Linked DNA regions of Homo sapiens: regions 1, 2 and 4 are each linked to region 3. Evidence: fine-mapped expression QTL. A gene starts in region 3. Each other region holds a variant in brackets. All regions are shown on one strand. Distances are between the middles of the regions. Region 1 overlaps LINC02071 (long intergenic non-protein coding RNA 2071). Region 2 has its middle 32 kb from the start of LINC02071. Region 3 holds the start of UTP18 (UTP18 small subunit processome component). Region 4 has its middle 32 kb from the start of LINC02072.

Region 1 (8,035 bases), 61 kb after region 3:
TGATTAGCTATAAAACTCTAACAGGTGCTCTTGAATGCAGGTTTCTGATTACTTTGGAGATTGTGACATCAGAATAGAGGAAAAATGGCAGGACTCATGGAGAGCTGAAATATTTATGAGTATTAAGCAGAACAGGAATTAACTGAGTGGACTGAACTAATAGAAGACTGGAGTAATCTTTTTAGTTTTTGCTTAAAATGTTGCTGATCCTTTGTTTTGTTTTTCAGAGTAAAGGAAACTTCTTTTGGGCTAGTGTTTAACAATTAAGTAAAGTATACTCCTATAAACAAAATTTAGAGCATATTTGCTTCTTGCTACCTGATTTCTCCAGAATTTGGAAACTTTTTGAGAGTATTCCTAACTTATGGCCATATAGTTATTTGCATAAGTGCAATAAGAATCTGTTTTCATTTGTAACAGGACAGAATTGGAGAAACTGGTTGTTTTACCAAAGGCTTGACTGGAATGGCGTGCTTTTCTTTAAGGAATCAAACTTGACTTATAGAGCCAATAAAAACCCCTTAGAAGAAAACTGGCTGCATACCATGCCTACACAGTTCCTGAATAGGGTTCCTGATCTGTGGTAAGTAAAGAATATCACTTTCTGACAGGCCCAGGAGCCCCAAGTTATCTTGGGACCTCAAGAAGAGACGAATTTACTCAACTCATAGGTATTCGATGGTACAAATCCATGACTGGACTTGGCTTTAAAAAGTCTTATCTGAGATTCCTTCTGTGGAACAAAGTTCCATCAAAGCCAATTTTAAAAGCCTATGTGAAAAATAATTATTCTTGCTTCACTTTATAGAAATAGTCTAGCCAAGTATAATAAAGCAAATTGGTCCTATGATTATTTGTCTTTTGTAAAAATTGGTAACAGGAGAGAGAAAAATTATATTTCAAAAACTATAATACATCTGTTGTTAGATTCTAGTCTTGCCTAATATTTTTCAGTTTTTATTATTTTCTACAGTTTGGACTCAATTCTAATTTTTCCTGGCTACAAGTCTCCAAAATAATGTTTTCCATTTTTTTCTTTTTTCTTTTCCTTCCCCCCCCCGCACCATTTTCCTAACGTGAAATAACTGAAAACTAAGCTGTGCTTTCTTAAAACTCTGCAAACTGAAGCTAGACAACTTAAACATCAGAAGAAAATAACAGCAACCATATACATATGTAAGCCACTTTCTTACCTGCTTGTATGGACTTCAGAATAATGTGGCCTATATCAATTTTCCAGGATTGTTCTTTTGTTTTTTGTTGTTTTTCACGATTCCTCCCCCTATTTTCTCTTCCTAGGACATGAGACTTCCCAGCCTGCTAAAGGTGAACTTTCCTGATAACTTGGGACCTACCATCTAGGAATAAACTGTCCTAGCCATGAGAGATCAGATGAAACCTGAGACCAGAGATTCATTTCCTTCTAATATGCTTTCTCCCAAAGCTTTTCAAAAGAAAAGGGGGGAAATGTGAAAGGAAAAAAAATCTTGGGGCCCCCAAATCACTAAGCTAAAGGGAAAAGTCAAACTGGGAACCACTTAGGGCAAACCTGCCTCCCATTCTATTCAAAGTCATCCCTCTGCTCACTGAGATAAATGCACATCTGATTGCCTCCTTTGGAAAGGCTAATCAGAAACTCAAAAGAATGCAACCATTTGTCTCTCACCGACCTGTGACCTGGAAGCCCCCTCCCTGCTTCAAGTTATCCTGCCTTTCTGGACAGAACCAATGTGTACCTCTTACATGTACTGATTGATGTCTCATGTCTCTCTACAATGTGTAAAACCAAGCTATGCCCCAATCAATTAGGGCACATGTCGTCAGGACCTCCTGAGGCTGTGTCATGGGTGTGCATCCTCAACTCTGGCAAAATAAACTTTCTTTTCTTTTTTTTTTTTTTTTTTGAGACAGAGTTTCACTCTTGTTGCCCAGGCTGGAGTGCAATGGCATGATGTCGGCTTACCGCAACCTCCGCCTCCTGGGTTCAAGCAATTCTCCTACCTCAGCCTCCCGAGTAGCTGAGATTACAGACATGCACCACTACGCCTGGCTAATTTTGTATCTTTAGTAGAGACAGGGTTTCTCCATGTTGAGGCTGGTCTCGAACTCCTGACCTCAGGTGATCCGCCCGCCTCAGCCTCCCAAAGTGCTGGGATTACAGGCGTGAGCCACCGCACCTGGCCGGCAGAATAAACTTTCTAAATTAACTGAGACCTGTCTCAGATACAGGCAGACATCAGTGTGTATACATGTAAGGTATACATTGGTTCGGTCTGGAATGCCTGGACAACTTGAAGGGCTGGAGGGTTTCTAGCTTGTAGGTGGATTCAAATATTTTCTAGCTTGGGCGTGGTGGCTTATGCCTGTAATCCCAGCACTTTGGGAGGCTGAAGTGGGAGGATTGCTTGAGCCCAGGAGTTCGAGACCAGCCTAGGCAACATAGTGAGACCTTGTCTCTACAAAAAATTTTAAAAATTAGCCATGTGCAGTGGTGCATGTCTGTAGTCTCAGCTATGTGGGAGGTGGGAGGATAGCTCGATCCCAGGAATTCGAGGCTTCAGTGAGCCACTGCACTCCAGCCTGGGTAACAGAGTGAGCTCTTGTCTTTCCTCCTGCACTGTTAGAAATAAATTTATGGTGCCGCAAAAGAAATAGCACTCGAACATGAATTTTCTCAGCAAGGCAATTTTACTTCTATAGAAGGGTGCGTTTTGCAGATGGAGCAATGGCGAGAGCACAAGGGAGTGGAAGGGGTTCTTATCCCTGACACAGGTAGCCCCTACTGCTGTGTTGTTCCCCTTTGGCTAGGGTTGGATCACACAGTCTAAGCTCATTCCAGTGGGCTATTTTAAAGAGAGCAGGGGTATGAGCTGGAGTGGCAGGGAGAGTAGTTTGGCAGGAAGGACAGTTACAGAACAGGTACAAGATGACTAAGAACAGAGCAGGTGACCAAGGATGACTAAGGTCGGAGCAGGTGACCAAGGGTGACTAAGGTCAGAGCAGGTAATAGAGGCTAGGAGGGGGTTGTTTACTGAAACTAGGGACAAGGAGATGTAAAGAATGAGGAAGTTAAGCTTTAAAATGAGGAACAAAGAACAGGGGAGCTGAACATACTGATACATTGGTTCTTTGGAGAGGATCTCAGAACTCATTGTACTTAACAATTTATAGGCTAACACCTTTGAAGAAGCATTATTATATCCTACATGTACCATCCCCCCTGCAAAAAAAAAAAAAACAAATATTTTCTGATTGGCAATTGGTCGAAAGAGTTAAGTTATTATCTAAAGACCTGGAATCAATAAAAAGGAAGATTTGGGTTAAGATAAGAGGTTGTGGAAACCAAAGTTCTTATTATTGCAGATGAAGCCTCCAGGTAGCTGGCTTCAGAGAGAATAGATGGCAAATGTCTCTTATCAGACCTAAAAAGCTGCCAGACTCTCAATTAACTATCTCCTGGATCAGAAAAGACCAGGAAAGGGAAGGGGATTCTCTACAGAATATGGATTTTTCCTACAAGAGAGAGCTTTGCAGGGCCATTTCAAAATATGTCAAAGAAATATATTTTTGGGTAAAATACTTTGAATTCTTTCAGGGCCTGCTATCTGTCATGTGATGCTATATTAGGGTCAGGTTGGAATTTGGTATCTTACTGCTACAAAGAGTCTGTTTTGTCAGTCTTAATATCTCTGTTTAATGATAATGCTGATCAGTTGTGCCTGAATTCCAAAGGGAGGAGGGTATAATGAGGGATGTTCGACTTCCCTTCCTATCATGGCCTGAACTAGTTTTTCAGGTTTATTTTGGAAATGCCCTTGGCCAAGAGGCAGCAGTCCATTCAGTCAGTTGAGGGGTTTAGAATTTTATGTTTGGTTTACAGAGTAAATATGAGGTGAGGGCTAAAAGCACATTTTCTGAGTCCCAAATCAAGATACATGGGCTAACTAGGGATTTTTGTGCCATTTTCAGATGTGAGACGCTGTCTTGGAGGCATGGTATGAATGTAGACATGATGAAAATTCCGAGGTATTTTGATGGTTTTTGGACAGCAAGTCAGAATATTTGGAATTGGGACTATTTGGGGGTTTAAATTGTAAAGAAGAGCTTGAGAGGGAATGTTGAGGCACAAGGACAGATTAACTATAGGTAGCTGTAGACAAAATTCAAGTCAGTTTTAAAAATGATGAGTTGAAAATAAACCATGAAACTGAATTAGCCAGCAGCCGGCAAATGCATT[T/G]TCTCATTGACACCTAAGCAGTGATAAAATTCCCTCATTGTAGATCCTACCTCTTCTTCAGAAAGCATATATAGGCTTGCCTATATGCTTTCTGTAAAATAAAATCAAATTCCCAAAAGTTCCAGTAAGGTTATATGCTGTTATTTTTATATACCTCCTGTTCTCCCCCAAACTCTTGCTTCCTCAAATGCAACATCTTCCTTCTGTTGCCCTCATCTGGATTTTCAGATCATCCATCCACCCACCCATCCCTCCTCCCATCCACCCAATGAGAATCAATGGACTTCCTGTGGATGTTAGGCACTATGTGGTTCACGCTGGATTCCCAGCACTCACAGAGGCAAAGTCATGGATTAGTTAATTACAAGTTGGACAAACATGACCAAAAGAGAAAGGCATAGTGCTTTGGGAGCATAGGGCAAGGAAACAGGACCTGGTCTGAAGGGTCCTGGAAGTCTTCCTGAGGAAGCCATGTTTAAGCTGAGTTCAGAAGAGTGAGTAGAAGTTGGCCAGGAGTATTTCATGCCAGCGCCTTCCCCTCACCCCATTTCTCCCCAAGCCTGCTCTCCCTTGTCCTCTGGAATTCCTTGTCCTACTGTGAAAGCTCCCTGTGCATTTATTGACTGCTTCTCTTTTTCCAGCCCTGGGTTCTTCCTGAAGCTCCTGGGTCTCCAGTGGGTGTCTGCTCTTTGATGGTTCTGCCCACCTCCCCATTTCAGTTTGGCAATAGAATGCTCCTGTGGGCTGGGTGTGGTGGCTCACACCTGTAATCCCAGCAGTTTGGGAGGCCAAGGTGGGCAGATCTCTTGAGCCCAGGAGTTCAAGACCAACCTGGGCAACATGGTGAAACCTGTCTCTCAGAAAATTAGCCAGGTGTGGGTGGCCCACTCCTGTAGTACCAGTTAATCTGGAGGCTGAGCCCAGGAGGTCAAAGATGCAATGAGCCGTGGTCCTGTCACTGCACTTCAGCCTGGGTGACAGAGTGAGACCCTGTTTCAAAAAAAAAAAAGAAAAAAATGCTACTGTGACTCTTCCTTCTTACACAATGCTCTAATATGACTTTTAAAGGACACGGTAATCATTTTGTCTTATTTCCATGGGGTAATCATTTTGTCTTTTAACTTTTCTTATCATAGAATTGCTACATTGATAAGGCGTTTAGCACTGGGTCCCACACAGGGTAAGTTCTTGATATGTATTATTACCCCTACTATGATTTTTAAAAGACTCTGACCGTACATTGTATGTAACAGGCACTTCATAACTGCTTACTCATCTTCCCTTATCCCAGTGCCCATGGGCCAGTTAAGGCAGAGAAGATAGGGTTGTAGGAATCAAATGTTTATTGAGTACCTTAGAAGTCATCCTGACAGTGAGAAGGCTTTGTCCAAGGTTAAACGACTTGTTAATTAATGTTAGAGCTGGACTTTGGATCCAGGTCTTCATACTTGAGCATAGGTGTCCTGATTTGTATTTTAATGCTCTTTCTATGACAGTACCCCATGCTCTTCCAGTCTCTTTGTGGAGTCCCTGTCTTTTATCACTAGAAAGTGACAAAGGCCTTGACTCTGTGCTCAAAAGTCTTTTTTTGTCTCCTCTGCAAAAAGTGGACTCTCTCATGCAATCCTAGAAACTGGAAATTCTCTCTAGAGAGCATGCGTGGCTGTCTCTCAGGGATGGGGTGGGAGTTGGGGGAGGATATAATGCCCCCTCCTGCTACTTAGCAGAGTCTGTCTCGTCTGAGTGAGCATTTGGAGGACTTTTATCATGGAATCACCCTACATTCCTCAATCTTTGCTTACAAGTGCCCTTGAAGCATCCCTCTGCTTCACTTTTGGAGGAATTGAGTTATAGGTGACAGTTCATACCTACTGCCACCTTCTGTTGTAGAGTGTTAAGTACACAAGGTCTTTCTAGAGATGTGCTCTAGGAGGCAGTATGGCATCAGAGTTAAGAACACAGAACCTGGAGTCAGTCTACTTGGGTTTAACGTCAGCCTTAACTTGGGCAAATTATTTAAACTCTCCAAGTCTCAGTTTCTTCACTGAGGGACAACAATCAAAGCTACTTCAGAGGGCTGATGGAGGATTAAAAGGTGCTACGACATATAAAGCACATGGCCCACTGCCTGGCACATAGCAAGCATTCAATAAATGCCAGCTGTTATTATTTTCTCATCTGATACCTACAGCAGCCTTGGGAGATAGGCAGGGCAGGTGTTATTAACCCTTCTATACCCCTGGGAAGGCTGAGTTTCAGAAATGTTAAATGACTTGATCTGAGGTCACAGAGCCAGTGAATGGCAGTCAGGACCCCAGGTGGTCTGACTCTGAGTTCAGTGCTCCTTCTCCCTCTGAGTGGCCTCTGAAATGAATGGTATTTCCCTTGGGGACCTGCCTGACCAACTTTCATGTTTGTGAATTCTCTTTCCTTCCAGCTTCTCCTCCTTTTGTCAGAATTCTGCCTGGTGATAGTTTCCAGAAACCCACCAGTCAAAACGCTACCTGTTTCTGTGAGGCCAGGATGCAGGCCTCTCAGGAGGATTCAGGAGGGCTACTCAGTCTCTGGAAGGCTGGAGGGTTCCTGCTCATGCAGTGAGTACATTGAGCCTTCAGCTGGGAGTTAACTTAGTTGTCTGTTGGGTGGAATTACCTTGAGTCCCTTCAACTTGAAAGAAAACCTAACATATATTTGTGCATTTGAAAATTGCAGAATGATTTAATTTTATATCAAGTATTGTAATATATATGATATTACTGGAAAGATACTAATGAGTTTTTACTTGCATTTTATACAAAGGATAACTTCTTATTCAAGGCCTCTGGGCCTCTTGCTTTTACACATTACCAAGAACATTCCATTTTGTTCAATAAAAGCATTGATTTCATCCGTCTTTGTTGTCCGATAGGTTGGCAGGGTAGGGCTATTGCTTGCTTATTTTCTTACCTCTGGAGTATTCACTTCTGAAATGAAGGGGTGTTTCACTTGTGGACTGGGTGATGCTGGGTAAGTTGCTGAACGTCTCTCTGGGCCTCAGGTGCCACATCTGAAATGATGATTCTTATCTCACAGACCTGTGTAAAGGGTTCAAGCACTGTCCCTGACACTTACTAGGGGCTTGGTCAGCCTGAGTTTATCTTATGTGTTTATCTTTGTCCTTCACATTTATCCATCCACAGTAACATTAATGACTTCATTTGCTCCAAACCCATGAGGCACATGGGACCAGTATGAATTTGAAATAGAAAAGGATATGGCTAAATTGCCTTATAAAAACCTTTATCAGTTTATACTACCATCAACTCTGTGAGTGAAAGTTCCCAATTTACTTAAGAATACTTCAACTTTTTATTGAAAAATAAAACACAGATACAAAAACCCACACCTAACAAATGCACGGCTTAATGAATTATTGTGAATGCCACGTGAGTTAAGAAGTAGAACTTTGCCACCCACCCCAGAACCTGTGCCCCTTTCCCTCATCCCAATTGCCTACCCCTCTCTCTCTATAAGTAGTCACTTTCTTGACCTTTGTAGTAATCATTTACTTTTTAAAGTTTTTTTAAAGATCCAAATGCGCATCTCAAGATACTCTAGTCTTGCTCATTAAAAAAAAGTGATAATTTTTTAAAGCCGCGATTATTCAGTAAATTCTTCCTCCATCCCTCTTTTTTTTCTTTCCAATTTGCCTGTAGAAGAATTCAGGCCTTTTGGCTTGTAGAGTTTCCCATAGTCTGGGTTTTGCTGACTGCATACTCATGGTGCAGTTAAGCATGTTCCTCAGTCCTCTGTGTTTTC
Region 2 (8,035 bases), 44 kb after region 3:
ATCCCATTCATCTCTCCCCCACATCCTCACTAATAGTTAGTGAACCGAAGAATGATTAGTCTTACGAAGACGTTTCCTCTGTTTAAACAAAGTCCAGGTGAAAAGTCATTTGCCTTACCGATGGACGTTAAGTGTGTGCGTATGTGTGTGTTTCTGGTACGGATATGTAACCTGTTATAAGCTGACCAGCTGAAGGGTTTGTAGGCATATCTGCACCTCCAGTTTGAGGATGGGATGGAGGCAAGCAAATGCCCATGAAGTCAGGTGCTGGCTCACAGCTTCGAAGAGTTCTTAAGCTACTTGGGATGATACTTAAATGCATCTGCAAAGTCATTACACAAGAAACAAAGCATTTTCCATTCTTTTAAACTGGAGGAAATGGAGGCTGGCGGAGAAGGTAGGCTGTGGGGATGTGGATAGCCTTTCCGACCCCCTGGTGCTGTAATTGTGCTGACATCAGTAATACATACATAGAATCTCATATAATTCTCGTTCCTCTGTGAGGAAAATAACATTGTCATTTTACAGGAAAGTAAATTGAAGTTTCAAGAGATTGAGCATCTTGGTCCCAAAGCCATCATTTTGACATAGATCAGTGGTCCACAAAGCAGGGTTTGCATACTCTTAAGGGTATGAGATACAGCCCTTTAGATTGTGGGAAGGAAATACTAGAACTTCTATGCTGTGTAAAAAGTATTTTTGTCCCAGTTACTCGGGAGGCTGAGGCAGGAGAATCACTTGAACCCGGGAGGCGGAGGTTACAGTGAGCCAAGTTCATGCCACTGCACTCCAGCCTGGCAACACAGTGACACTCCGTCTCAAAAAAAAAAGTATTCTTGTTACATAATGTATTCATACTGTAGATCATAGAGATAACTTAGAAACAGATAGGGTTTTTTGTTTTGTTTTTGTTTTTGAGACGGAGTTTTGCTCTTGTTACCCAGGCTGGAGTGCAATGTTGTGATCTCGGCTCACTGCAACCTCTGCCTCCTGATTCAAGAGATTCTCCTGCCCCAGCCTCCAGAGTAGCTGGGATTACAGGCATCCACCACCACGCCCGGCTAAATTTTTGTATTTTTAGTAGAGACGGGGTTTTGCCATGTTGGCCAGGCTGGTCTCGAACTCCTGACCTCAGGTGATCCACCTGCCTCAGCCTCCCAAAGTGCTGGGATTACAGGCGTGAGCCACTGCACCCGGCCATAAACAGATATGTTTACATTGGTACATTCAATGTACATTTCTTTTTTTTCTTTTGAGACAGGGTCTTGCTCTGTCACCCAGGCTGGAGTACAGTGGCATGATCATGGCTCACTGCAGCCTCAATCTCCCAGGTTCAAGTGATCCTCCCACCTCAGCCTCCCGAGTAGCTGGTACTACAGAGGCACCCCACCACGCCCATCTAATTTTTATATTTTTAGTAGAGATAGGGTTTCTCCATACTGCCCAGGCTGGTCTTGGAACTCCTGGGCTCAAGCAGTTGCCTGCCTCAACTTCCCAAAGTGATGGGATTATAGACGTGAGCCACCGTTCTCACCTCAATGTACATTTCTTATTAAAGGACCACTGGCCTGGGTGCCTGGCTGCCATGCCAAACTTGACACATTTCCACACCCTGTCCTCCACTGTTCCCAAACACTTTTTATGTTCCCTATAATGTTAAAGCTTCTCCATTAACTGTCACATAAGCTAGGTAGTTTAGACTGACTTTAAACTTGAGTTTTTTCTCTAGCCCAATCCCTGCTACAAAGACTGGTTCAAAGCATTATGTTTCCAATTTTTCTCTGTAATGAGTAAGACCTAGTATTTAATGGCACAACAAAGTGACAAAGTGACTATAGTCAGTAATAACTTAATTGTACATTCTAAAATAACAGTGTAATTGGATTGTTTGTAACAAAGGATAAAAACTTGAGGGGATTGATAGCCCACTTGCCATGTTTTATTTTTATTTTTTTTGACAGAGTCTTGCTCTGTCGCCCAGGCTGGAGTGCAGTGGCACAATCTTGGCTCACTGCAACCTCCGCCTCCCAGGTTCAAGTGATCCTCCTGCTTCAGCCTCCCGAGTAGCTGGGATTACAGGCGCCCCCCACCACATGTATTTTTAGTAGAGATGGGGTTTTACCATATGGGTCAGGCTGGTCTGGAACTCCTGACCTCAGGTGATCCACCCACCTCGGCCTCCCAAAGTGCTGGGATTACAGGCGTGAGCCACCGTGCCCAGCCCCATGATGCAATTCTTACACATTGCACGCCTGTATCAAAATTCTATAAACTTAAAAAATCTGACTTGATTACAGACAGAACAAAAAGTTGGCGACAGAGTCAAATTCCATAAAATATTTGAGGGAATTATTCTGAGCCAAATATGAGTGACCAAGGCCCGATGCAGACTCTCAAGAGATCCTGAGAACATGTGCCCAAGGTGGTTGGGTTATAGCTTGATTTTAGATATTTTAGGGGGACAGAGGCATGTAAGGAAAATACATTTTGGGGCCCCCAAATCACTAAGCTAAAGGGAAAAGTCAAGCCAGGAACTGGTTAGAACAAACCTGCCTCCCATTCTATTCAAAGTCATCCCTGTGCTCACTGAGATAAATGCACATCTGATTGCCTCCTTTGGAGAGGTTAATCAGAAACTCAAAAGAATGCTACTGTTTTTCTCTCACCTACCTGTGACCTGGAAGCCCCCTCCCTGCTTCAAGTTGTCCTGCCTTTCTGGACAGAACCAATGTACCTCTTAACATATATTGATTGATGTCTCATGTCTCCCTAAAATGTATAAAACCAAGCTGTGCCCTGACCATCTTGGGCACACATGTTGTCGGGACTCCCTGAGGCTGTGTCACAGGTGCAAGTCCTCAACTTTAGCAAAATAAACTTTCTAAATTAACTGAGACCTGTCTCAGATATTCAGGGTTCACATTTTGGTAACCACAAAGGAACTCTGAGTGGAGGTGCCTCCCGGCCTTTGACAAATCTCCTATTGGTGCTTGGTACCATCTTGAGCTGTCTTGATGGCTCAAACCAATAGGGCAATTTGCTGAGGCCTGGAAGCACGCCCTCCAGAGAATCCCTGATCTCTCAAAATTTGGTCAAGATCTGAAGTTTATTTTGCTTTACAACTCCTTTTTTTCTTGTGAGTTTTATTTGCTTCCTCCAGCACAAGGAAGGCTAGTTTTCCTGCTTCCATGACAAATAGGTTACTCCTTTAGGGCTTTGAGCTTGCTCCCAACAGGGAAGGCAAATTTGAGGGTTTTTTTTCCTGCTTCTAGGATAATAGAGAGCAGTCTCCAGCCTGAGACCTGTCCCTAGGTAAGTAACTGAATTGGGGTTTGTCTTGGCTAAAGTTAAGGTTAACAACCAACTGGTCTTCATTTCTCCTTACCATTAGAGTGCTCAGTAATCATTTAAGTTGTGCAATTGTTTGTTTTGCTTAACGGTTTTGTTGTTGTTTGTCTCTGTTTTTGTTCTTTCAACCTTTTTCCCATTGGGTTTGACCAACTGTATCTGACTTGATCAAGTCCAAAGAAAGTTTCAAATTATGGGGAACAAGCCCTCTGAATTGGCTAAATTCCCAACATACACAAAAAGGTGGACTTGTTATGTAAATAAAGCCCTTAAGTAGTCCAAATAAACAATCTTTCCTTTTTTTTCCCCTCTTGCTGGCTGTTTTTCAATTCCCCCATACTCCCCCAACACCCCCCTTCCCACACACACAAAGGTGGTATGGTGAGGGGAGAAAAATGGCCAGGAAAAAGAAAAAAAAAAAGGAAAGATATTTGATTTTGATTACTTAAGGGGCTTTATTTACATAAGAAGGCCACCTTTTGGCTAGCCAGGCCAAACTGTAAGAGCAATGGCTGTTACCCTACAGTGGAGTTCCATAGCCAATGTTCTGCCTTCTTTTTATCACCACGACAGCCTGGGTTTTGTCCCTAAATGAAGCCCTTTCTGGTTTAATACTTGGTACTTCTGAAATAGCAGCAATTTGTCCTATTTGAAATATGGTAATGAAATCTAAAAATATTTTTTTAAAAGGAGCTCAATGGTTAAAAGTCAGCTCAATTAAAAGCTAACATCGAAGATGCGTGTGTGTGTGTGTGTGTGTGTGTGTGTGTGTGTGAGTGTTTGTATTTTAAAGGCCTTCATTTTTTTTTCCTCTTAGGACCTTGTCTTTTTTTTGAACAAAACCTTTTTTCTTCTCTGTTGACTGAATTCTGTTTTCTTTATTTGCTTCTGCTGTCCTTCCTTTCTCTTGCACCCTCTGCTGCATGAAGACCTAAAATAGTTTATAATAGTCTGAAGTTCCTAAAAGGAAAAAGAGAAGGTATAATCCCAGCACTTTGGGAGGCCGAGGAGGGTGGATCACGAGGTCAGGAGATCGAGACCATCCTGGCCAACATGGTGAAACCCCATCTCTACTAAAAAAAAACACAAAAAATTAGCCGGGTGTGGTGGCAGGCGCCTGTAGTCCCAGCTACTCGGGAGGCTGAGGCAGGAGAATGGCGTGAACCTGGGAGGCAGAGCTTGCAGTGAGCCGAGATAGCGCCACTGCACTCCAGCCTGGGCGACAGAGTGAGACTCTGTCTCAAAAAAAAAAAAATAAATAAATAAATAAAAAAACAGAGAAGGTGCCAGACTCCCTTTTGGGAAATGTCTGTTTTTCCTTATGGAATCCAAAGAGTGTAAACAGACAAGTTCGTCTCAGCTTTCAAACTGCTTTCTTTTGTATTGTGTTACCTGATTTTTT[T/A]AACTAAAATAGTTATTGCAACAGAGGCAACTCTTGGGTTGTTAAGGAAGAATGTAGTTTAGACACTTAGAAATGTCTTTGTTAAAAAAATTTTTTTTGAGTGCACTGGAAAAGCATGAGGTCTAGCCTCATAGTAATTCTCCCTTTTTGGAGATCCAGGATTCAGTGTGGGCTCTGCCCAGAGATCAGAGATCCACTTAAAAGGCAGATAGTCCGTATCTAAATAAAATTGGTTTCCTTATACAATCCTATGATAGATTTCTATAATTTTATGTTTGATTTGGCATCCATCTTTAATCTCCCTCTAGCAACACCAGACTTTTTCTCTCTGTACCTTGAGATGTAAATTTTGTTACCTGATTTTTCACCTAAGAGTTGTTTCCTTCGATATGCAGATTTAAGGCAATTTAGCTGACAACTGCCAGGGTAATGAAACAGGTTATGAAGAGTTTGCAAGTCTAAGACAGGAAAAAAAAAAAGTAGGTCTTATGAATCTATAAGATGTACTTCTACTGGTATGCCTAATATGTCTATGTAATTATGTATTGTGTACACAATGTTTCACTACTAAAAATATATAAAAGCTCTAATTTTCATTCCAAGATGGCTGAATAGGAACAGCTCTGGTCTGCAGCTCCCAGAGTGATCGACACAGAAGATGGGTGATTTCTGCATTTCCAACTGAGATACCTAGTTCATCTCACTGGTACTGGTTGAACAGTGGGTGCAGCCCATGGAGGGTGAGCGGAAGCAGGGCAGGGCATTGCCTCACCCAGGAAGCGCAAGGGGTCTGGGGATTTCCCTTTCCTAGCCAAGGGAAGCTGTGACAGACTGTACCTGGAAAAAACGGGACACTTCCACCCAAATACTGCACTTTTCCCAAAGTTTTAGCAACTGGCAGACAAGGAGATTCTCTCCCATGCCTGGCTCAGTGGGACTCATACCCACGGAGCCTTGCTTAAGGCTAGCGCAGCAGTCTGAGATAGATCTGCGAGGCTGCAGGCTGGTGGGGAGAGGGGTATCCGCCATTGCTGAGGTTTGATTAGGTAAACAAAGCGGCCAGGAAACTCAAACTGGGTGGAGCCCACTGCAGCTCAGCAAGGCCTACTGCCTCTACAGACTCCACCTCTGTGGGCAGGGCATAGCTGAATAAAGGGCAGCAGAAACTTCTGCAATCTTAAACGTCCCTGTCTGACACCTCGGAAGAGAACAGTGGTTCTCCCAGCACGGTGTTTGAGCTCTGAGAATGGACAGACTGCCTCCTCAAGTGGATGTCTGATCCCTGTGTAGCCTAACTGGGAGACACCTCCCAGTAGGGGCTGACAGACACCTCATACAGGCGGGTGCTCCTCTGGGACAAATCTTTCAGATGAAGGATCAGGCAGCAATATTTGCTGTTCTGCAATATTTACTGTTGTACAGCCTGTGCTGGTGATACCCAGGCAAACAGGGTCTGAAGTGGACCTCCAGCAAACTCCAGCAGACCTGCAGCTGAGGGACCTGACTGTTAGAAGGAAAACTAACAAACAGAAAGGAATAGCGTAAATATCGACAAAAAGGACATCCACACCCAAACCCCATTTGTAGGTCACCAACATCAAAGACCAAAGGTAGATAAAACCACAAAGATGGGGAGAAACCAGAGCAGAAAAGCTGAAAACTCAAAAAACCAGAGTGCCTGTTCTCCTCCAAATGATCGCATCTCCTCACCAGCAACAGAACAAAGCTGGATGGAAAATGACTTCGATGAGTTGACAGAAGTAGGCTTCAGAAGGTCGGTAATAACAAACTTCTCCGAGCTAAAGGAGCATGTTCTAAACCATTGCAAGGAAGCTAAAAACCTTGAAAAAAGGTTAGAGGAATGGCTAACTAGAATAAACAGTGTGGAGAATACCTTAAATGACCTGATGGAGCTGAAAACCATGGCATGAGAGCTTCGTGATGCATGCACAAGCTTCAATAGCCGATTCGATCAAGTGGAAGAAAGGATGTCAGTGATTGAAGATCAAATTAATGAAATAAAGCAAGAAGACAAGATTAGAGAAAAAAGAGTAAAAAGAAATGAACAAAGCCTCCAAGAAATATGGGACTATGTGAAAAGACCAAATCTACGTTTGATTGGTGTACTTGAAAGTGACGGGGGGAATGGAGCCAAGTTGGAAAGCACTCTTTAGGATATTGTCCAGGAGAACTTCCCCAACCTAGCAAGGCAGGCCAACATTCAAATTCAGGAAATACAGAGAACACCAAAAAGATACTCCTCGAGAAGAGCAACCCGAAGACATATAATTGTCAGATTCACCAAGGTTGAAATGAAGAGAAAAATGTTAAAGGCAGCCAGAGAGAAAGGTCGGGTTACCCACAAAGGGAAGCCCATCAGACTAACAGCGGATCTCTTGGCAGAAACTCTACAAGCCAGAAGAGAGTGGGGGCCAATATTCAACATTCTTAAAGGAAAGAATTTTCAACACAGAATTTCATATCCAGCCAAACTAAGCTTCATAAATGAAAGATAAATAAAATCCTCTACAGACAAGCAAATGCTGAGAGATTTTTGTCACTACCAGGCCTGCCTTACAAGAGCTCCTGAAGGAAGCACTAAACATGGAAAGGAACAACCGGTACCAGCCACTGCAAAAACATGCCAAATTGTAAAGACCATCAATGGTATGAAGAAACTGCATCAATTAATGGGCAAAATAACTAGCTAACATCATAATGACAGGATCAAATTCACACATAACAATATTAACCTTAAATGTAAATGGGCTAAATGCCCCAATTAAAAGACACAGACTGGCAAATTGGATAAAGAGACAAGACCCATCAGTGTGCTGTATTTAGGAGATCCATCTCACGTGCAGAGACACATATAGGCTCAAAATAAAGGGATGGAGGAAGATCTACCGAGCAAATGGAAAGGAAAAAAAGGCAGGGGTTGCAATACTAGTCTCTGATAAAACAGGCTTTAAACCCACAAAGATCAAAAAAGACAAAGAAGGGCATTTCATAATGGTAAAGGGATCAATTCAACAAGAAGAGCTAACTTTCCTAAATATATATGCACCCAATACAGGAGCACCCAGATTCATAAAGCAAGTCCTTAGAGACCTACAAAGAGACTTAGACTCCCACACAATAATAATGGGAGACTTTAACACCCCACTGTCAATATTAAACAGATCAATGAGACAGAAGGTTAACAAGGATATCCAGGACTTGAACTCAGCTCTGCACCAAGCAGACCTAATAGACATCTACAGAACTCTCCCCTCTAAATCAACA
Region 3 (7,926 bases):
AGAAGAATCACTTGAACCCGGGAGGCGGAGACTGCAGTGAGCCGAGCTCATGCCACTGCACTCCAGCCTGGGCAACAGAGCAAGACTCCATCTCAAAAAAAAAAAGAAAAGAGAAAGTAAATTCAACAGCTTATTCAGTATCATATTGATCTGATATAACCTAAAAACACTTGATCTGAAATGATAACATTCTCTTGGTGTTTACCTTTAAAAAATATATTTGGAACTGGTTGCTCAGAAGATATAAAATCACTGAACAATAGTAACTACAGGGTGTTAATAATTAAACAAAGATGGGTTAAACACATACAGATACACAAGGGGGCTACTTCTCTGGTGTATAAAATAATCTCTAGCAAATTTTAAAGCTTAGAAGTCTTAAAGTAATAGATGATGATAACCTTTTTTTTTTCCTTTTTTTTTTTTTGAGACGGAGTCTCACTCTGTCGCCCAGGCTGGAGTCCAGTGGCACAATCATGGCTCACTTCAACCTGGGTCTCCCACCAGACTCAAGCAATCCTCCCACCTCTGCCCCCGAGTAGCTGGGACTACAGGGGTGTGCCACCACACCTAATTTTTGTAATTTTTTTTTGTAGAGACAGGGTTTCGCCATGTTGCCCAGGCTGATCTTGAACTCCTGGGTTCAAGCAATCTGCCTGTCCTGGGCTCTCAAAGTATTGGGATTACAGGCGTTAGCCAACACACCTGGTTAATATTAACCAATATTTATTGAACGATATATACAAATCACTATGCTTAGCACCAGAAATACAAAGAAGTATTAGACTTAACATTCCTGTCCTACAATTAAGACTGCAAACGGTGGCCAAATAATTGGGCCACAACGTTGAACAAACTAATGAGTATTATATACAACCAGTTTTAAAAGACTAGTAGTAGGAATTAAACATAGTGAAAAAGGAAAAAGAAGGAAAGCCTGGGAACACATCTTAACATTTTATCTTATGACTTGTCTCATCTTTTATAGCAGCTTACTTTTTTTAAACAGCGGGCATAACATCTGAGTGGAGGTTTACAGAAACTACAGGAGGCAGGGCTGATGTTCACCCTGTATTTCAGATGAGGAAAGTGAAGCTTTCAAAGAGGTTACACAACTCACCTAAGATCGCAGTTCAGAGAGGTAGCTTGCTGACTTTGTCCAGAGCTCACTTCTACTAGACTAAATTCTAAATTATCAGTGCTAAAGTGAGAACTCGAAGGGACCTCAGAAATCTCCTAATGGAGTGTTTCCCTAACCAACCTGATAAACTTTCTGGGGTATACATTAAAAACACATTCCCAGGACCCACTGCAGACCTACTAAATAAGTTATAGGAGAGAAGTTTAGTATTTTAACAAGAGCCTCCAAGAAGTGATTATAATGATTAGTTATGCTTAGAAAACAGTGTTCTATGTGTGTATGTCCAGTATGCCAGACATTTGGCTACTTAAATTTACATTGCCTAAAACAGCAAAATTAAAAATTGAGTTCTTCAATTTTTAGTTCCACTAGTTACATTTCAAGTGCTCAACAACCACATGTGGCTAGTGGCTACCGTAACTGGACAGCAAAGATATAGGAAATTTCCATCATTGCAGAAACTTCTATTGGATTATGCTGATACTAGACTAACCCTTCAACTGCCATGAGAAAATGGAGGCACAGGATCTTGTCCAACAAGGGCCATGGAGCTACTCAATGGCAGAATTGTGACATCAACCTCACTGCCAGCACCCCTCTTATTGTATCACTTCATCCTATCTCATATTCAGGGTTTGTTCAAATGGGAATTATTTCCTTTTCACCTTTTATTGTGGGTTCCAGCAAAGCAAGAAGAGAAATCCTAAATTTGCAGGTAAAAAAATCCTTAAGCCAAGGTTTATTAAAAAATAATGATTAAATCTATGTGCAATTTTTGCCTGAAATCAAAAGTCATCTTGCACAGTTAAGAATACTGTGGTGTTAGGAGAAATATCTTAGCTTGTTTTAACTATTGTAAGTCCTTTCTCTTTTATTGTCCTGATGTTTTTATTCTTTCTTGAATTTTGAAACCCTCAGACTAATGATACATAAGTGTGAAAGGTTATATCTTATTTAGCAAACATTTTAAAGATGAAAAGCTGAGAAACAAAGAGCAACCCAAAGAATGTCACTTGTCTAATTTTAGAATGTGGTTACTCAGACTACTGAGCACTCTTGGCTTTTAGTAATTCAGTGGTTTAGTATTTATCCTAATATGTTGTTTTCACTTTTAAACTATAGCTTATATTTTCCTTTGATCACTATGTTACATTTGAAAACAATTTAAAATGTTGTTTTAATTTTCAACATTATTGAGGGACCAAAAGCAGCACTAGAACATCTAGAAAGGTTTAGATAATAAGGTCAACATATAACCAGCTTTAAAGAATATGGCAGCGTCTTAAAAATAAAACCAGTTGTTCCTGTCTAGTATGTTTAGAATGCAGATGTCTCCAAAGTCAGTCAACTTAAGTCATGACAGTTCATGTTTAAAGTAAGCAGGAAAAAAACTTGGAACTCCTTATTAATTAAAATGTTAAAAACACTATTATTACACCTCTACTGATTCTTTTTCACAAGCTGAATTCTAATGAGTAGATTTAGAGGAAATATTTTATGTCAAACATTACATAAAGTTAGAAACTGGATGGTTAAAAAGCATGACGCAACAACGTAAGGCACTATGAATAAATACTTATTCAAGACAGATGTTGCCATAATTTGCAAGGTACTCACAAGCAATCAGTATGGGGTTTTAGATAGATAGAAGCTACTTGTTATTCAGAGAAGGAGGTGGTGCAAAAAAAAAAAAAAAGTACAGCTATTTTCTTTCTAAACACTCTGGTGTTGAGGTAAACAAATGAAAAATAAAATAACAGTCTAAGTCCACAAGAGCAAAGCAACAGTCTCTAAGTTATAAGAGGAGGAGAGAAAAATTGAGTCTAACCTTTTAAATAGGAGACTGGGGCTTAAGGTGAAATTTATTTGCTGGCTTTTAAATCACATGCATTATTTCTACATTATACCTGTTATGTCTTGACACCCACTTCACCACATTAGAGAGTAATAGGTATATCCAAGATTCTTAGGCCAATAAAACTACTTTTAGAGGCAGCATAGCTCACCAAATGAAGGAGAATGTTAGAAAAACACCCAGTGACAATAGTTTCAACTATCTCAACCACCCAGTGATAAGTACTGGTGCATGCTAATATAAGGAGAATTAAAAATATTGTAAACTCTAAACAAGTATTAAAATGGTTCGTAAATTTCAAATCTCATAAAAGATAGTTACTTAAAAAAAAAAAAGAAGGAGTAAAAGCATTTGGAAGAGAGGCCCTTGGAGGAAAGACTAGCTTCCGAGGAACACAGGTCAAATACGGGTGTGGGCGGTAATCATCTAATCATCCCTCTACCAGGTGATGCTTCTAACCACTTCAGTTTTAGACATCCTTAGAAGTGATTTAGGTAATAAACAAATGTGTTTTGTGATACAAGAACCACGGAGATGACGCTGAAATTTCTAACTTCAAAAAGATGCACTCCTAAGAGAAAACAGGCACGAAATTCCCATATTGTAATTCTTTAGCTTCCTGTAGAAAAACATCTTCAGGCATGTAAGCCAGCACACTTGACACTGACCCAGCAAAGTTTTCGGCTAGCCCTCACTATCTCTCAACCCCCCTTCCTCCACTTCCCTGCTGTTCTTTCTTGGCACACAAAATATAGGCCAATGAGCAGTGGGTGGGTGAGGAGGATGTGAGAGAAAATTTGAGAAGTAAAAAAAGGAGCAACTTAACCAGGACATGAATGAGACTGAAGGGTCTAATAAGGGTAGGCAGACAACAATTAGAACTACTGAAATATGGGCTTTCCTGGGCAGTAGTGAGCTCTCAGTGCTTTTAGGGGTGTAAGCAGGGTTCAGACTACCTACCACTTGTCAGAGAGGCTGCAGAGGGGACGGCTGCTTTGGATGACCTCTAATGTCTCTTCCGACTCTGAAATGTTAGGATTCTTATTTCACAAAGGAGAACGCAATGGTCACAGAAGTCCACCGACTTGAAACCCTTTTAAATATGCAGCCTTGGAGGCTGCTTCCCAAACACCACTCCCACCTCTCCCGCACGTGCCCACCCCGCCCCCTTTCAATATTTCCACCTCCACGTGCAAACCGCCTCGCGGCACTGCCCCCAAGGCAGATAGACACCTTCCCCTGCAAAGCAACGAAACTGTGCTCCCCCTCCCCGCCAAGAAGAGAGGACTACTCCACTCTCCCACCCTGGGTGGCTAAAAAAGGAAAAGTCTCGGATCCAGCCTTTCCCCCCTAGCCAGAGCAGGGGGCGGGGGCAGGACGCAGAGAAAAACTTTCTTCTCGAATTTTTCTTCCAAAGGGTGGAGGAGATGGAGAGAACCCCAACGAGTCCAAGGCTGACGGGGTGGGGGGAGGGGAACCCCTGAATCGTTTAACGGCTGGAAGGGGGAGGGGGGCTCCGGAGGTTGAGAGGGCGTGGGATGGAGAAGCAGGCCAGGGAGCGGGGTCAGGGAGCTGCGGGGTTCCTGGGGTCGGAGAGCTGCAGGCGTCCCCCCCACCTGGCACACAAAGCGGCTGCCGCGCTCGGCTCTCACCAGATCCTTTGTGTTTTCCATCAGGGCCTCATGGGTAGGGGTTGTCCGTGCTCCCCGAGCCCGCGGCGCCCCCTCCCCGGGCTGGGGGCAGGTGCCTCTCCCCGGGACTGCGGCGACTACAGGGGGCCCCCGGCTGGGCCCAGACCGGTGGCGGGTGCAGCAGCCCCCGGATTTCCCCCCTTTAACTCGGGTGGCCCCAGGATATCAACAACATTAGCATAGCCCTCCCTCCCCAGCGCGCCTGCGCCGTGACCCGCGCCCCGATTGGCCCACTTCCCTACATACCCTCCTCTCTCGCTTCCACCGTGGGACCCTCTGCAGGCTCCGTACTCCAAGGACCGTACCAAGACGAAGGGTGGAAAGCGTATTGGGGCTTGTGTCAAGTCAAGTGGTTACAGCCAAGAGGAAAAGCAGAAGTTCCATTCAGCCGTCCCAGTGTATAGTCGGGGTTTCTTGCGCTCCTTTCAATATGTTGCAGCTGCGAAATTGTGTTGGAAAAATTTTCCACTCCAGTCACGCCGCTTCCCCCTACACCCGGAAGATTGGCCCTCCCGGAGGAACTCCCACACGGGGCGGGGCTGGGTAGGGGAGCGGGAGTTACGTAGAGGGAGGGAGTGCTGGTCACGTGGCAAGAGGCTGCGCAGGCTCCTTCCGGCCCCCGGGGCTTCGGCGGCGGCGGCCCGCGAGGGGCCTGGGCGCATGCGCAGCGAGGTTCCACGTGAGCGCCTGCGTTTCTCCTCAAACCTAACGATGCCGCCGGAGCGGAGGAGACGAATGAAACTGGACCGGAGAACCGGAGCGAAGCCGAAGCGGAAGCCCGGAATGAGGCCGGACTGGAAAGCCGGAGCGGGGCCAGGCGGGCCTCCCCAAAAGCCTGCCCCTTCATCCCAGCGGAAACCGCCGGCCCGGCCGAGCGCGGCGGCCGCTGCGATTGCAGTCGCGGCGGCGGAGGAAGAGAGACGGCTCCGGCAGCGGAACCGCCTGAGGCTGGAGGAGGACAAACCGGCCGTGGAGCGGTGCTTGGAGGAGCTGGTCTTCGGCGACGTCGAGAACGACGAGGACGCGTTGCTGCGGCGTCTGCGAGGCCCGAGGGTGAGGGAGGCCGCGGCGCGCGGGCTGGGCGCACTCGGGCGGGGCGCGCGGTGGGCGGTGAAGCTCCGGGGGGCGGAGCCTGGGCGACCTGCGGCGGCGGGGAGCGCTCAGGTGGGAGGGAGCCCGAGAACGCGGGCGCGGAGGGTCGCAGCTGCGGGTCCCTCGCCTCCCTGCTCCAGACTGAAAGTGCCTGGAGGGCGGGGACCGCGTCTTTCTCCGCCCCTGGAGGCGCCGCTGCTCGGGTATCTGCTTTGCGAACTGTGGTCGTGAGCATCTTTCGCTGCTGCTCGACTCCGCTAGCCTCTTCCCAAACTGAGGGTGGTCTTTTGATCACCTGCCTCAGTTCCTTGTGATTCAGGAATTCGATTTCGTTGATGGAATCAATTCGTGGGCACGGGCCTGGGCATCTCCGTTGTAACTATGTCCCCATGTGACTATGAGACCCACCATGTTTTGAGAATGATCGTGTATTCCGTTCATTTAGCAAATATTGGTGAACCTGTTAGTTGCCAGATACCCTTTCTGGCAATGGCAAACCCTGCGTGATTGATCATACTTTTTGCACACATTTTGCTATCCCTTTAAATTCTATACCAGGCTTTTCTTGAGAGAGTCCCGGACATTGTTCTAGGCACTGGAGGAGACACAGCAATGGACAAAACTGACAAAAATCCCTGCCTTTTGGCGCTTGTGTGCTAGTGGCAGAGACAAGATAGAGGAGATAAACGAGTAAACTTCAGGTTTGTTGGTGACAAGTGCTGAAGAGAAAAAAGGACATTCGGGAAAGGGAGATGGGCGTGTGTAGAGGCCTGTGAAATTTTAGATAAAGGGGGCAGAGGAAAGCTCACCGAGAATTACCCAGGCCATGTTTATTACACAAATGCTGACCTAGTTAATGTCAGCTGCTTACCAGAGCCGCCTTCGGGTGCTTGTAGGAGAAGTGGCAGCAATCTTTTTGGGAAGTACAGAACTATTACTGGAAACATGCTGAACTGTGCGACGGTTTTGTCGTCTGGAAAAGGAACAGTGTACGGAGGTGGGAGCTGTTGGGTTTGAAGGCTATTAGACTAGTAGTAGAGCAAGTAGAAACCACTTGGACATTTCTATCATTGGTTTTGGGAAGCTCAAACTCACTTCAAGGGATATTCTGTGGTCTAGGTTTAGATTTTTTTTTTTTTTTAGACTCGCCCTGTCGCCCAGGCTGGAGTGCAGTGGCGCCATCTCGGCTCACTGCAACCTCCACTTCCTGGGTTCAAGCGATTCTCCTGCCTCAGCCTCTGGAGTAGCTGGCATTACAGGCGTGCGCCACCACGCCTGGCTAATTTTTTTTTGTATCTTTAGTAGAAACGGGGTTTCACCATCTTCGCCAGGCTGGTCTCAAACTCCTGACCTCGTGATCCGCCCGCCTCGGCCTCCCAAAGTGCTGAGACTACAAGTGTGAGCCACCGCACCCGGCCTAGGTTTAGATTTGATAGTATAAACTTTATGGTATAAATTTATAACTTTAGAATTTAGATTTAATGGTATATTTATTTTTTACTTATTTAGAGATACGGTCTAACTTTGTCACCCAGACTGGAGTGTAGCGGCACCTATTAGTCTTCCATCTCCCTTTTGCTAATAGTAACTGGTTGCTCTTCTTGTTGGTCACAGATAAATTACACCTGCACAATTCTCCGAACACTTTAAACTCAGAAGTCAGCTTCATCCTCCTAGGCTCAAGTGATCCTCCTGCCTCTGCCTCCCAAGTAGTTAGCTGGGGCCACAGGTGCACACCACACACCCAGCTAAATTTAAAAATTTTCTGTAGAGACGAGATCTCCCTATGTTGCCCAGGCTGGACTCGAACTCCTGGGCCCAAGCAGTCCTCCCACCTTGACCTCCCAAAGTGTTGGGATTACAGGCATGAGGCATTGCGCTCTCTGCTGGTATAAAGTTTCTTAAGGAGGTAGGGGGTCAAAAACAGATTGGGAAAATGGAGATATCTTTGACTCTAGTTTGCCTCCGGTCCTGTAATTTCTGTAGTTCTGACATTTCTCCTCCTTTTTTCATCTGCAGACTCATCTTTTGTTCTTGTCTTACTTGGTGTTTTCCTTCCTGCGTGTTGAGTGTTGACTTTTTCTCCTTGACTGTTCCATCTTGCCTCACCTGTCCAGTCGGTGCCATTCTCTGATTTCTCCATTTTC
Region 4 (8,035 bases), 110 kb after region 3:
CTTTTCCATTCACAGCTTCTGGAGCACCTGGGGCAGAAGCACCTGGGGTGGGGAGTGTGTGTTAAACACACCTGAGCCTGGGTATCTGTATTTTAAATGAGCTGCCCAGATGCTTCTGAGGCATGCTAAAACTTGGGAACCCTTGCATTACATCTTGATTCCTGTCTCAGGCTAAGGGAGGTGGGGAGTGGAACAGCTGCTGATTGTTCAGATGGAAAGTGGTGGTGGGTGGGTAGTAAGAGTCTAAACTGGCATCTCTCAAACTTTACTGTGCACATGAATCATCTGGGGATCTTGTTAAAATGCAGATTCCGAGTCTAGGGGACTGAGGAGGGAGCTGTGATTCTGCATTTCTAACAAGTTCCCAGGCGATGTTGAGGCGGAGGCTGTGTGGACCACACTTAGAGTGCAGGTGTCCTCGATAGGACATGATGGGTGACAAATCGAGGATGGATCCTCAATTCTACCTGCACATGAAGACCACCTGGTGGCTTTTTGACACTTGAATCTCCAAGTCCCATCCCTAGAGACGATTGGTATTTTTAAAAATCTCCTCGAGTAATTCCACTGTATGGCCAAGATTAGGAACAACTATTTTTAAGCAAGGTGAGGGATGTCGGGATGCATATGCAGACAGGGTGTCAGCTTTTTTGTAGTCCTGCACTTCTTCCTTTGGAAAGTCTCCGTCCTGCCCCACTGACTTGTTGCTGCTTATCTGGAGGCTGAATTCAGAGCCAAAGAATGAGGTCTGGTTCACTTGGCTGGAGGGGATGGGGCAAGGGCTGTTCCTGTGCCCCACTGTCGTTTATGCCAGAGCCCTGAGTGCTGAGTTTTCCCAGGGGCTCTGAAAATCAGAGTGGGTTGTTGTTTTCTAACTGGGGTTCAGGCCTCCAATTTCCTCCTTTAAAGCGCCGCCTGCCTCGCCCAACAACTTCCTGACTCAAGTCTGCCAGCTCACTTCCTCTACTTATCTACTCCAGCCTTGGGATGGCTTCTCTGATGAGTCCTGCCGCACCCATTGTCAAGTTCATGACTACGCCAAAGGTCATGGTGAGGTCCAGAGGGAGCGGGTGGATGAGCAGAAAGAACACTTGGGGGGTCGTAGGCAGGTGAATTATTTTATTCAGCAGCAGCTCTTACCAACAGCTTTCTCACACTGTCCACCCTGTCTCAGCTGCTTGGTCCGGCGGCCCCCGCACACAGCTGCATGGCCTGCTCTCTCTTGCCTTCAGGGTCAGCAAATTAACCCTTTCTCTCTCTGGGCACCAGCATGAGCTGTGCCGCGGCTCCCCTCTGTCCATCTTGCAGATGGACAGCTTTGGCTCTTTCTCTCTTTCTCTGGGTGCCAGTGCACCTGTGCAGTGTCAACAGGGCAATTATACCTTTTATAGACAATAGTGGTGTAGAGCCAAGCGATGGCCTTCCCATCTAGTGATGGCTACATGGCTATGATAACAAGTGGAGTTTTACACCTGTGCTCTGAACTCGCTGAGACACACAGGGATGTAAACATCTTACCTCGGCCTATCCTTGACCAAAGCACAGCCATGTTCCTTACACCCATGCAGTTCCCATTGGGTAGAAACAGCTCCAATGTGCAGTATGTGGACTGTGCTTATTTAACCCTCCTCCCCAACAGCCCCTCTCCCCACCCCCACATGTTTTACTGGATTTGGCCCCAAAGTTTCTGATTTTAACCATCGTACTGATACAGAGGGCTGGGCTCCCAGCTAAACCCCATTCTTAAGCCTGGAACTGCCCCTTAAGTGAAAACAGCTGACCCCATTTTTCCGTCCAACTGTTGCCTTTTTGGCCTGCCTCACCCATATCCTGTGCCCATAAAAACTTTAGCTGGCAGAACAACACAGGCGGCTGAGCATCGAGGATACAAGTGGCTGAGGAGTGAGCAGAGAAGCAACTGAGCATCAGAGACTATGGATAGGTGTGGCTGACTTCAGACAGTGTGGCTTCAGAGAGGGGCCCGGCCGGAGATGGCTGAACTTCAGGGAAAGATCACCTTCCCATCCCCTTTCCAGCCTTCCTTTCCACTGAGAGCCACCCACTACTCAATAAAGTCTTCCGCACTCATCACCTTTCAAACAGTCCATGTGACCTGATTCTTCTTGGACGCTGGACAAGAACCTGGGTGCTGAGAGGGCAGAGGCTGCCACCCTGACCCCTGAGCTGGTTGGCACTTGGCTGATCCTGATGGCAGAGCTGAAAGAGCGCTGGTTGTAACACGCTTGGACGCTGCTGTGGGGCCCACACAGAGCCTGCTCCCACCAGAGAGGAGTGACCAGCCAGTTCCAGTTCCAGTGTTCGTTCGCTCAGGTTCCTGCATTCGCTCACTCACACTCTCCCTCCTGCGAGGAGTGGCCAGTGGTGGGCTGAGTGAAACGAGACACTCCAGTTCCTGCCCGCAAAGGGGGTCAAGTGAACTATCCCCTCTCAGCATTTTACCAAAACTGTTTATGAGACCCTGTGGTGGTAGTAGTTTAGAGCAGCAGTGGTTGTGGGGGACATTTTACACCTGTGTTTTAGTTTTCTTACCTGTAAAATGGAGCTAATGGTAGCATCTGTCTCATAGCACTGTGAGTGTGTGGGATGAATTGAATGGGATGATTTTTGCAAAGCATTTTCGGGCAGTGCCTGCACGTGAAATGTGTCTTCAAGGCACCGGCCAGCCACAACCTGGGTGAGATGGAGCTTCAGGGCCATCTGCTGCCCAGAACTCAGGACACTGCTTTTCTACATCTGTCCCTAGAAAGGGACAAAATAGACAGGTTGGTAAAGGGGCCTTTGGGTCAACTCATTCCTCACCAAGATCTATCTTTTTCTTTCCATTCTTCTTCCTTCTCTGAGTTTAATTTTTTTAAAGCCAAACTTCTGGAGTAAATTAAATTGTTTAATGAGATAATATGATGTAGTGGTTAGAAGCATGGACTCTGGAATCCACTGACTGGCTGTGCCATTTAGAAGGTGTGCCATCTTGGGCAAATACTTAACCTCTCTGTCTCAGCTTCCTTATCTATAAAACAGGGATCACAATAGTACCTGTCTCCTAGTGGTGTTGAGATAGTGCAGATACAGTGCATAGGGCAGAGCCTGGTGCTTAGAAAGCACTCAGTTTCTATCACCTATTACTGACTGCAAGCCTGGCAGCATCCCTATATTATAGGATTTCACATCTCCTTTAATCCCACAACTGGAAGAGGTATCACCTCTGCTTCACAGTTGAGGAAATGGGGGCTCAGAGGCTTGGAAAATGGGTTAAGATTATATAACTAGTAAGTAGTGGAGCTGAGATTTGAACCTTAGAATTTTAACTAAGAAGCCTGAGGTCTTTCTTTCTTTC[CTTTTTTTTTT/C]TTTTTTTTTTTCAAATTATACTTTAAATTCTGGGATACATGTGCAGAATGTGCAGGTTTGTTGCATAGGTATACATGTGCCATGGTGTTTTGCTGCACCCATCAACCCGTCATCTACATTAGGTATTTCTCCTAATGCTATCCCTCCCCTCGCCCCCAACCCCCTGACAAGCCCCAGTGTGTGATGTTCCCCTCCCTGTGTCCATGTGTTCTTATTGTTCAACTCCCACTTATGAGTGAGAACATGCAGTGTTTGGTTTTCTGTTCTTGTGTTAGTTTGCTCAGAATGATGGTTTCCAGCTTCATCCATGTCCCTGCAAAGGAAATGAACTCATCCTTTTTTATGGCTGCATAGTATTCCATGGTGTATATGTGCCACATTTTCTTTATCCAGTCTATCATTGATGGACATTTGGGTTGGTTCCAAGTCTTTGCTATTGTGAATAGTGCTGCAATAAACATATGTGTGCATGAGTCTTTAAAGTAGAATGATTTATGATCTTTTGGGTATATACCCAGTAATGGGATTGCTGGGTCAAATGGTATTTCTGGTTCTAGATCCTTGAGGAATTGCCACACTGTCTTCCACAATGGTTGAACTAATTTACACTCCCACCAACAGTGTAAAAGCATTCCTATTACTCTATGTCCTCTCCAGCATCTGTTCTTTACTGACTTTTTAATGATTGCCATTCTAACTGGCGTGAGATAGTATCTTGTTGTGGTTTTGATTTGCATTTCTCTAATGACCAGTGATGATGAGCTTTTTTTCATATGTTTGTTGGCCGCATAAATGTCTTCTTTTGAGAAGTGTCTGTTCATATCCTTCGCCCACTTTTCGACGGGGTTGTTTTTTACTTGTAAATTTGTTTAAGTTCTTTGTAGATTCTGGATATTAGCCCTTTGTCAGATGGATAGATTGCAAAAATTTTCTCCCATTCTGCAGGTTGCCTGTTCACTCTGATGATAGTTTCTTTTGCTGTGCAGAAGCTCTTTAGTTTAATTAGATCTCATGTGTCAATTTTTAAAAGCCTGAGGTCTTTCTTTTCCAGGGACTCTTAATCTGGGGTCCCTTAACACCTAGTAGATTATTTGTGAGTTTCATTGAGTTTGGGAATCCTTTGAAATTGTTTCAAGAACAGGCGTTTATGTTTTTGGGAAGTCAGGGTCAAGATCACAGTCCATTGTTTTCTTTAGATCCACAGAGTAAGCCACTGCATTATTCCAACTTTCTTATAAGATAGAACAATTATTTAATGAACTCCAAATGTATGAAACTTCCATTGTTGAGATTATGTAAATAATTGGGCTGTAATGCAGCTGGATTCCTAGAATTAATAATTTCCATGTTCATACTCTGTGCTTACCACTCTAGTGCCCCTAATGTCATTTCAGCCCCTGTGTTTCTGGGCAGTCTCAATCAGAAGGATAGCATGCTTCAGAAAGCTTGCAATCACTCTGCAGAGGTAGACTCAGAGTCCTGGGTTTCACTGCTAGCAATGCTTCTAACTCTCGGAGCTTTATCTTCTTTGCGTGTAAAATGTGAGGATTGCCCAGCTGCACTCTGAGTCTCTCTGATGTCTTTCTGATGTGAAATCAAGGTGGAGATCAGGAGTTGCCTTCCTTAAACAAGGGCAGGCATGTTTTGGGTAGACAGAAAAGTGGAAACATAACCAGTCAGTCATTCATCTGCTGCATCTGGGGATGGACCTAAGCTGAGCAGGAGCCTCCCCTATCAGTCCTCTTCTCCTTTCTCCATGCTACGGCCACTACTGAGGACTGTAGAGTCAGAGTTGGAGGAGGCCAAGGAGGCATCTCTTAATTTACCCTGTCATGCTACTGAGCAAACCGAGGCCCAGAGATGGGGAATGCCTTACATAAGGTCACATGGCTAGTGCCTGGATTGGGACTTGAGCCCAAGTTTCCAGAATCCAAATCTGATGTCTACTTACAAAGCCAGCTAGTACACGAAGAGATCTAGAGGCCTTCTCAGGACTACTCAAATGTGACAAATATGTGGTCTGGCAGAATCCTGGGACACATTTCTGGGAATGCTGTTCTCTCTTTCCCAGTGCCTCGTCATGGACATGCCTTTCTGTGGGACGTTCTTACCTGTCCAGGCCTCCATTCACTGCAGGAGGGGAGGGGAGGACAAAAGGAGAATAGCAGCCCCAGGGTGTGTGCCTCTGTCCTGGGCAAGAGGGAGTGTCCATGCCCTTGCTACTTGGCATTCTCCCAAAGGCTGGCTGTTTCTGTGAGCACATTCCCAGCCTGCCAGCCTCTTTTTTTCCCTACAGGTGTATGGGATTCCTAAGGGGAATTGGACATAGCCTTTTATGCCCCATTCTTATGTGGCAGGAACTTTCCTTCCGTCCCTGTGACTCTTCTCAGGGCTCCTTTGACTGCTTTGGGAAACTCTGGGTTTACTCTTCAAATCCTGGATGGGGAAGCCAGAGGGCTGGAAAGCAGGCTGGCCCTGGTGATGGCCAGCTCTGCATCACTTGGCCATCTCACCCACAGTTTGGAGTGGAAAGAGGTCCAGTCACCTGACTGTGGGTTCTGGGGAGTCAGAGCCAGGGCAGGTCCGTGTTCTGCTAGGGGCTGGGAGAAGGCCTGCATCATACACAGTTAGTGGGCAGTACATGAAGGCAGTGAGGAGGTGTGGTATGCCCGCTGCCTTTCACAACTGCAGAAATGGTCACTGATTTCTTTCATCCTCCTCAGTGGCCTTGAAGCCCCTGGACAGAGCAATGCATCGGTGCTGGCTCTCAGAGATTTGTGCCAGCAGCAGGATGGGTTTTCTCTCCTGATTCCGTTTCTCCCTGGTTGGTTATTAGCACACCTTTTTCCTCCTGATTGAGAACAGCTCAAGTGGGAACTGCTACAGCTAGGGGCAGCATCTCTGGTGGCATGCTGGTGGCAGGGGGAAACCAGATGGGGAGGAAGAGCCAGTCAGGAGACATGTGGCTAATCACCTGTGGACCCAGGAGGATTCAGCTACTCAGTTCCTAGCCTCTCCAATTATGGATTCCCTATCCTGTTCTTTTCACAGTTCATACTTTTTTCTTTAAAGTAAAAAGTAACATGCATCACCATCTGTGAAAAGAAGGGGAAAAATAAAACTGAAAAAAGAAGGTAACATGCGACATTAAACATCCTTCTCCTAAAAGTATATCTCGCTATCTGCCCGTTCATCCATCCATCATTAACAGTGGCTGACATGTGAATGTTTACCAAGTGCCAGGCACTGTGCTCTGAGGTTTGCAGAGGAAGTCCCTATAGCCATTCTGTAAGAGATGCCACTGTTGTCCCTGTTTTTAAGGTGAGAACATAAGATACATGGAGGTTAAGGAATTTGCCTAAGGTCACAAATTAGGAAGTGGCAAAGCCAACCAGGAACCCCGGCAGCCGGGCACCAGAGCCCAAGCTCTGAACCGCTACTGGGCCATCTGCTTCTCTGCTTGTCAGTGGCATGGAGAGATGGCTGCAGGGACTTGCCCCGTATACTAATGCTGGTAGTTCAGAGTGGCTGCATTTGGGGTGACTTTTGACTTTAGTCTTTAAATTCTTCAGTCATGTTTCAATTTTTTTTTTTTTTTTTTTTGAGACAGAGTCTGGCTCTGTCGCCCAGGCTGGAGTGCAGTGGCTCAATCTCAGCTCACTGCAACCTCCGCCTCCTGGGTTCAAGCGATTCTCCTGCCTCAGCCTCCTGAGTAGCTGGGACTACATGTGCGCGCCACAACGCCTGGCTAATTTTTTGTATTTTAGTAGAGACGGGGTTTCACCATTTTGGCCAGGATGGTCTCGATCTCCTGACCTTGTGATCCGCCCACCTTGGCCTCCCAAAGTGCTGGGATTACAGGCATGAGCCACTGCACCCGGCCTAAATTTGTAAATGATGGGCATGTATCATTTTTATAATAGCTAAATAAAAAAACCAGTTGCAGAGAATCCCCAAAGCATATGATTTGGGGAATGGTAAACAGAGAGCAGGACGCTTTTTTTTTTTGGTGGTGGGTGGTGGGGGCAGACAAAGGAACTCTGATTTTGACCATCATCTCGTGGTGCTCTTGGGAGGCTCATCATTGGTTGGGTCCTCCCCCATTGCCTTGTTGTCTCTCTGCCACAAGATGGCAATCACAGCACAAGGATGGATGGGCTTGCAGCCTCCAGGAAGGAACACTAAGCGTCTGTCTTCCAGCTACAGAGAAGTCTCCCTAATGCATAGTTGGGGGAAGGGGCTTTTAGAGAGGGATTGAAAAGCTGACATCCCCTGCTGACCCAAACTCCAGGCAGTCCGGCAGTCATAGTCAGACGCTTCCATTTGCAGTAACCCATAGCTCTTCCCAGAACAGAGCTACATTGTGCATTTTGCTTTCTGATGAAAGAGACATAGAGACAAAATGACACAGAGGTTTCCGGGCATAGAATGAGGCCAGTGAGCCTGGAGAATGGGTTATTTGTAATCTGTGGGGTTATTTATTCTGTGATGTGTATAGATTCTTTTTGTTCCTTGAGTAGAAATTGGTGCTGGTCTTCTAGATGCAGAGGCTACAAAACAAATCCCAGGGTAGGCAGCCAGTGGCTTTCTCTGGGGTCTTCCCAGGTGGATATCTGGGTAGGGCAGCTTCCACTGAGGCTCAGCTTTTGGGATGATTCCTAGGAGGAAG

What was found. PIP is the estimated chance that this variant, and not a neighbour inherited with it, causes the effect. A credible set is the group of variants that fine-mapping cannot tell apart.
Region 1: its variant is the best candidate, but not a certain one, in a credible set for the expression of UTP18 in whole blood (INTERVAL, PIP 0.87).
Region 2: its variant is the best candidate, but not a certain one, in a credible set for the expression of UTP18 in whole blood (INTERVAL, PIP 0.89).
Region 4: its variant is the best candidate, but not a certain one, in a credible set for the expression of UTP18 in whole blood (INTERVAL, PIP 0.77).

What each region holds. Positions count from the first base shown.
Region 1 is chr17:51,316,450-51,324,484 of GRCh38, forward strand. It overlaps LINC02071 (long intergenic non-protein coding RNA 2071), which reads right to left. Exons shown (of 6, transcript NR_110751.1): 4 at 7,184-7,283; 5 at 5,137-5,227. Among named protein-coding and RNA genes, the nearest start is that of LINC02071, 15 kb to the right of the region's middle. RefSeq lists an enhancer at 3,066-3,155. The variant T/G (reference allele first, on the strand shown) is at 4,238.
Region 2 is chr17:51,299,603-51,307,637 of GRCh38, forward strand. No RefSeq gene overlaps it. Among named protein-coding and RNA genes, the nearest start is that of LINC02071, 32 kb to the right of the region's middle. The variant T/A (reference allele first, on the strand shown) is at 4,751.
Region 3 is chr17:51,255,187-51,263,112 of GRCh38, forward strand. It overlaps UTP18 (UTP18 small subunit processome component), which reads left to right and starts at 5,360. Exons shown (of 14, transcript NM_016001.3): 1 at 5,360-5,740. The coding sequence starts at 5,399. It overlaps MBTD1 (mbt domain containing 1), which reads right to left and starts at 4,863. Exons shown (of 17, transcript NM_017643.3): 1 at 4,649-4,863; 2 at 3,957-4,020. RefSeq lists silencers at 4,601-4,920, 5,261-5,370, 5,721-5,910 and an enhancer at 6,381-6,430.
Region 4 is chr17:51,364,321-51,372,355 of GRCh38, forward strand. No RefSeq gene overlaps it. Among named protein-coding and RNA genes, the nearest start is that of LINC02072, 32 kb to the left of the region's middle. RefSeq lists an enhancer at 1,779-2,279. The variant CTTTTTTTTTT/C (reference allele first, on the strand shown) is at 3,356.